Regions from separate parts of the Homo sapiens genome. Here region 2 is linked to region 1. A link means that fine-mapping ties the variant in region 1 to the expression of a gene that starts in the linked region. Tissue or cell type: whole blood. Region 1 holds a variant in brackets; the other region holds the start of a gene. All regions are shown on one strand. Distances are from middle to middle.

Evidence for each region. PIP is the estimated chance that this variant, and not a neighbour inherited with it, causes the effect.
Region 2: it holds the start of TNRC6A, and the variant in region 1 is fine-mapped to the expression of TNRC6A in whole blood (INTERVAL, PIP 0.99).

Annotation. Positions count from the first base shown.
Region 1 is chr16:24,855,608-24,858,292 of GRCh38, forward strand. All of the region lies in intron 2 of SLC5A11 (solute carrier family 5 member 11), which reads left to right. Among named protein-coding and RNA genes, the nearest start is that of SLC5A11, 11 kb to the left of the region's middle. The variant G/A (reference allele first, on the strand shown) is at 1,403.
Region 2 is chr16:24,728,444-24,731,128 of GRCh38, forward strand. TNRC6A (trinucleotide repeat containing adaptor 6A) reads left to right here and starts at 1,208. Exons shown (of 25, transcript NM_014494.4): 1 at 1,208-1,403; 2 at 1,810-1,857. The coding sequence starts at 1,399. RefSeq lists a silencer at 1,237-1,546.

The DNA of each region.
Region 1 (2,685 bases):
AAAAGAGAAAAAGTGATTGTGCCACTGCACTCCAGTCTGGACACCAAAGTGAAACCTTGTCTCAAAATAAATAAATAAATAAATAAATAAAAATAAAACAAAAAGGCTTGAGAGAGCCAACTTGACCCATCCATCTACCATATGAGGACATAGCAAGCAAGTGCCACCTATGAGGAACGGGCCCTCACCAGACACTGAATCTGCTGACAGCTCGATCTTGGACTTTCTCCAGAACTGTGAGCAATAAATTTATGTTGTTTACAAATTACACAGTCTAAGGTATTTGATTGTAACAGTAGGAATGGACTAACCCCTGCTTATGTATGGTCTCAAGCCGGAGTCACTACCTCCAGAATAACCTCCCTGCCCGCGTTCTTGCTTCTCATCAAGGCTGCCCCCTGTCTGATCATACCACTTTCTTATTAGAAATTCCTCACTGACATCCTTTAACCCAGAGCACATGTGTGCACTGGAGGTGTTCCTGGCCTTCAGAGATGTTTCAAAATGTATGAGAGCATTTTTGGTTGTCACAATAATTTGGGAGTGCTACTGGCATTCAGCAGGGGGAGGCCTGAAATTCTAGACTTCCTGAAATGTGTATTGCCCACGCAATAAAGATTTTCAGAGGACCCACCAGACATTCATGTGGGCGAAAATCCCATTTATCACTATCTGAGTCCACAACCTACCTTCAGATTGCATAAAATGAAAAGTGTTGGAGTTTTTTCTTACTTTAAAAATGTACCTTGGCTGGGCTGGTAATCCCAGCACTTTGGGAGGCCAAGGTGGGAGGATTTCTTGAGGCTGGAGTTCAAGGCCAGCCTGGGGAACATAGGGAAACCTTGTCTCTTAAAAAATAAAATAGGCCGGGCGCAGTGGCTCACGTCTGTAATCCCAGCACTTTGGGAGGCCGAGGTGGGTGGATCACGAGGTCAGGAGATCGAGACCATCCTGGCTAACACGGTGAAATCCCATCTCTACTAAAAATACAAAAAAAAAAAAAAAAAAAAAAAATTAGCTGAGCGTGGTGGTGGGCGCCTGTAGTCCCAGCTACTCAGGAGGCTGAGGCAGGAGAATGGTGTGAACCGGGGAGGCAGAGCTTGTAGTGAGCCGAGATCAGGCCACTGCACTCCAGCCTGGGAGACAGAGTGAGACTCCATCTCAAAAAATAAATAAATAAATAAAAATAATAAAATAAAATAAAATAAACTTAGCTAAGTGTAAATGGTGGAGTCAAGGTCTTGCTCTTTTTGCCCAGGCTGGAGTGCAGTGGTACAATCTCAGCTCACTGCAACCTCCACCTCCCAGATTCAAGCAATTCTCATGCCTCAGCCTCCTGAGTAGCTGGGACTACAGGCATGCGCCACCACACCCAGCTAATTTTTGTATTTTTAGTAGAGAC[G/A]GGGTCCACCACGTTGCCCAGGTTGGACTTGAACCCCTGGCCTCATGGGATCCACTCACCTCGGCCTCCCGAAGTGCTGGTATTATAGGCATGAGCCACTGAGCCCGGCCAAGGTGTACAGCTTCGGAGCCTGAATTCTTAACATCTCTCCCCATGAACCTGCCCTCTGTGAAACATCACGTTGTGCTGTTGTTGTCCATGGGTGGCTTTGTCCCATCACTGGGCTGTGCATTGCAAGATGGCAAGGATCAAGTATTTTCATTCCGGAATGCCCAAAGGCCAACAGAGTGGAGTTGCATCTTAACACAGAAATAAGTCAATGCCCTGATCACTTGTGGTCAAAAATCACCCTTGGAAATTTTATTAGTTTCTGACTGCTGCTTTAACAAATTACCATGAACTTAGTGGCTAAAACAACATAAATTTATGACCTTACAGTTACAGAGGTTAGAAGTTCTAAATGGGTCTTACTGGGCTAAAATCAAGGTGTCAGCAGGACTGAATTCCTTCTGGATGTGCTAAGGAAGAATCTATTAATTTGCCTTTTCCAGTTCCTAGAAGCCACCTGCACTCCTTGGCTTGTAGCTCCATTACCCCATCTTCAAATCTAACAACGTTGAGTGAAATCCTTCTCATGCTGTCATCTCTGTGGCTATCTCTTCTGATTCTGTTTTTACTGTGATTACATGGGGCCCACCCAGTTAATCCAGGCATCTCCCTATTTTCAGGTTAGCTGCAGCTAGGCATCTCCCAATTTTAAGTGATTTGACTACCAACCTTAATTTTATCTGCAAACTTAATTGTCCTTTGATATGTAACAACATATTCACAGGTTCTGGGGATTAGAGGTAAGCATCTTTGGGGGCCATTTCTCTGTCTACCACAAGATTTCCTTAAATTGCCCATGGATTTGCAGGGTACTGAGAAAACTGCTTAGATTAGTGGCTCAAAGCATGGATTCTGGAGCAAGATTATTGAGTTCAAATCTCAGCTTTATGACCTTGGGCACTTACTTAACTTTTCTGTGTCTCTGTGTCTCAACTTCACCATCTGTAAAATGGGGATGATAACAATAGTGCCCACTTTGCAGGTTAGTAAACACTTAGAATGATGCCCAGGATATAGTAGATGCAATATGAGTGTTTATTAAATATATTAAATTTCATGGTATATGTAGCATTGGAACAAGATTATGGTGTCTGGCTGAGCCTTGGACAAAATTGTTGACTTGACTCTCACCCAGCTGTGAGGTACCACGGAAGTGGAGACTGACTCAGGTGTCT
Region 2 (2,685 bases), 130 kb before region 1:
CTAAAAAAAATGATAATATAATAAAAAAATAAAAAAAAAAGCCAGTTGAAGAACTTAGGTTAGAAAAAGGAGAATGGGATGATCCACAGAGTGGGGTTTCTGAGAAAGTAAAGGTTATAGATTTTAAGCACAGAGGAGGAATTATCTTTAAATTAGAAGAAAAAGCTTGATGAGAGGTTGGAAAGAACACACGCAAGTGAAAATATGTATCTTACTGTATCTACATGTATGTGTATTGTTGTATCTACCTGCAGATATGTATGTCTTATTGTATCTACATGTAGGTATGTATGTATACTTTTAATGTACACATATGCATCTGTGTCTACATATATACATATCTTAGTCTATCTACATGTATGTATCTTACTGTGTCTACACTAAGATGTTTCTTACTGTGTGAGCTACGTTGGAACCTGCTTTTTCATTTATTCTATTGCAACCATTTCCTCCATGCCGGGATTATTCCTCCACATCATTTTTACAGTGTCCTAATACATGCCAGTAGCTGTTTTTGAAGCCATCTAGTAGCGCTGGACATTTTGGCTGTTTGCAATTTTTCACCATCATCAATACCACAGCTTAGTATCTCGAAGGTGAAATATTTGCAGATACCCAGAATTATTTCCTGAGCAGAAAATCCGTGCAGGCGGAACTGCTGAGTCAAAGGTCGGTGGATAAAAATCGCTTTTAAGCCTCACAACCCGCCTCAGGTATGCATTCTTTACCTGAGGAGGAACAGAGAAGCAGAGAGGTTAAATAACTGGCCCAAGGTCAAAAATAATTAGAAGTGGCTGAATTCAAAAGCCGCGCGGGCTCATCAGGCTGCAGTTGGGGTAAAATTTGCGTTTTAGGCAATTTTTTTTTTTTTTTTTTTTGGCGTGTGTCAGTGGGGGAGGGGCCGGGCGGCGGGTAGGAAACTTGTGTCGCAGCAAAGAAGGAGGAGGAGGGGAGGGACTCCCCTCCTCGGTCAGACCGGAGCCGGCCGCACCGAAAAAGGTTGGACTCGGGACTCCGCAGGCCCCCCCAGCCACTCCGCGGGGCGCCTCGGAGGCTGTGACCTCCAGGGAGGTCCGGCTGGGTGCAGCGTGACACGCCGGGGCGGTTGCCAAGGACCTGCCCAATCTGCGGGTCCAGTTGCTAGGGCCTCCATCTTGGGGGCCAGTGGCCGTGGCGCCCCCGGAAGGGGTTGCCGAGTGGGGCATTCACTTCCGGTCTGGGGCCTGCGGCGGCGGCGGTGTCGGCGGCGGCGGCGGCGGCGGCGGCGGCGGCGGCAGCGGGTCGGTGTAGAAAATGGCGCTGGTGCAGCGGCTCGGGCCTCTCCCCGCGGCGCTGCGGAGGGCTTGAGGCTCGCGAGCCTCCTTCGCCGCGCCCCACTTGCTCGTGCACTTTACACACATGAGGTGAGCGGAACAAGGGCCTCCCTCCGGGCGGGAGGAGCCGCGGGCGCTGCCGCAGGGCCCGCAACCCGCGGCGGCGGCAGCAGAGGCGGCGGCGCCGGGCGTCCCCGAGACTTCGGGCCTCGGCGGGAGGGCGCAGGCTGCGTTGCTGCGGAGGCCGAGCGGGCGGCCCGGGGGAGCCTCGCTGCGCCGCGCCGCGGGGGCCAGGCCGGGGTTGCGCCTCGCCCGCGCCGCGGGACCGCAGTCCGGGCTGCAGCCCCGCAGCTTTGTGAGTCCCCCTCCCCCCGTCCTCTCCCCTCCCCCATCCGGCCCCGGCGCGAGCCTCTGCCGCAGCAGCTCCGTTTTCACGCGCATCTCGTTTTTGTGTGTGTGTTTTTGTTTTGTTTTTGTTTTTGTTTTTTTGTTTCAGAGAATTGGAAGCTAAAGCTACCAAAGACGTAGAAAGAAATCTTAGCAGGTAAGATGGGCGAGCTTTCCGTCTCCCGCCCCACGATAATCGTATATTTCTACTCCGATTCGCCTTTTCTGGGTTGAGAAGTTCCCCCGTGACATTTTCTTCCGCACCCGGAGAGCAGACATTCGGGAGAAGCGGCCTGGGGGAATACTGGAGGGATTGCGGGGAGATGCGTAATTACGCGTGTGTTTCTTTCTTTAAAAAAAAAAAAAAAAAGCGCAAAGCAATTCTTGTAAACTTAGTTAAAGCATTCTCACCCTTTTAGAATTTAATTAGGGGACTTGTGCATTAATTACTATTGTAAATGGTTGCAGGCATTGTGTGACTCATGATTGAGGCGGCCCTTATGGCGGGCTGTCAAACTGTTTTGGCTTCCCCGTTATTACTTTGTAGCTCAAATTGTTGCTTTTATAAAAAGATACTATGTGTTCGCATTCCCCCCCGCCCCCCCCCCCCCCCCATACATTGTAGTCAGGCGGATTCTGTTGCATTGGACACAGTTTTGTCCTTGAACTTTACCAAGCATAAGCTGCGTTTTGTTTTCCTTCGAAACTCCATTTCTGTCCATGTTCGGTGTGTGCTCTTTTTATCAGCTGGTAAAATAATTAAAAATCTTTTCTCCAGAAGAGGTTATCGTTCCTGTTGGGCCCTGCTGCTTTTGCATCACCGTGAAGGGAGAATTTTTTTTTTTTTTTAAACGATGTCTTTATGGAATGGAAATATTTAGCTTCATTGAGCTGTAATTGCTTAAGCATCAAGGAATTGTACTGTATTTAACTCCTTTTCACATTCATTTTCTTTCCTACCGTCTTTTCCTTTCTTATTCCCCTT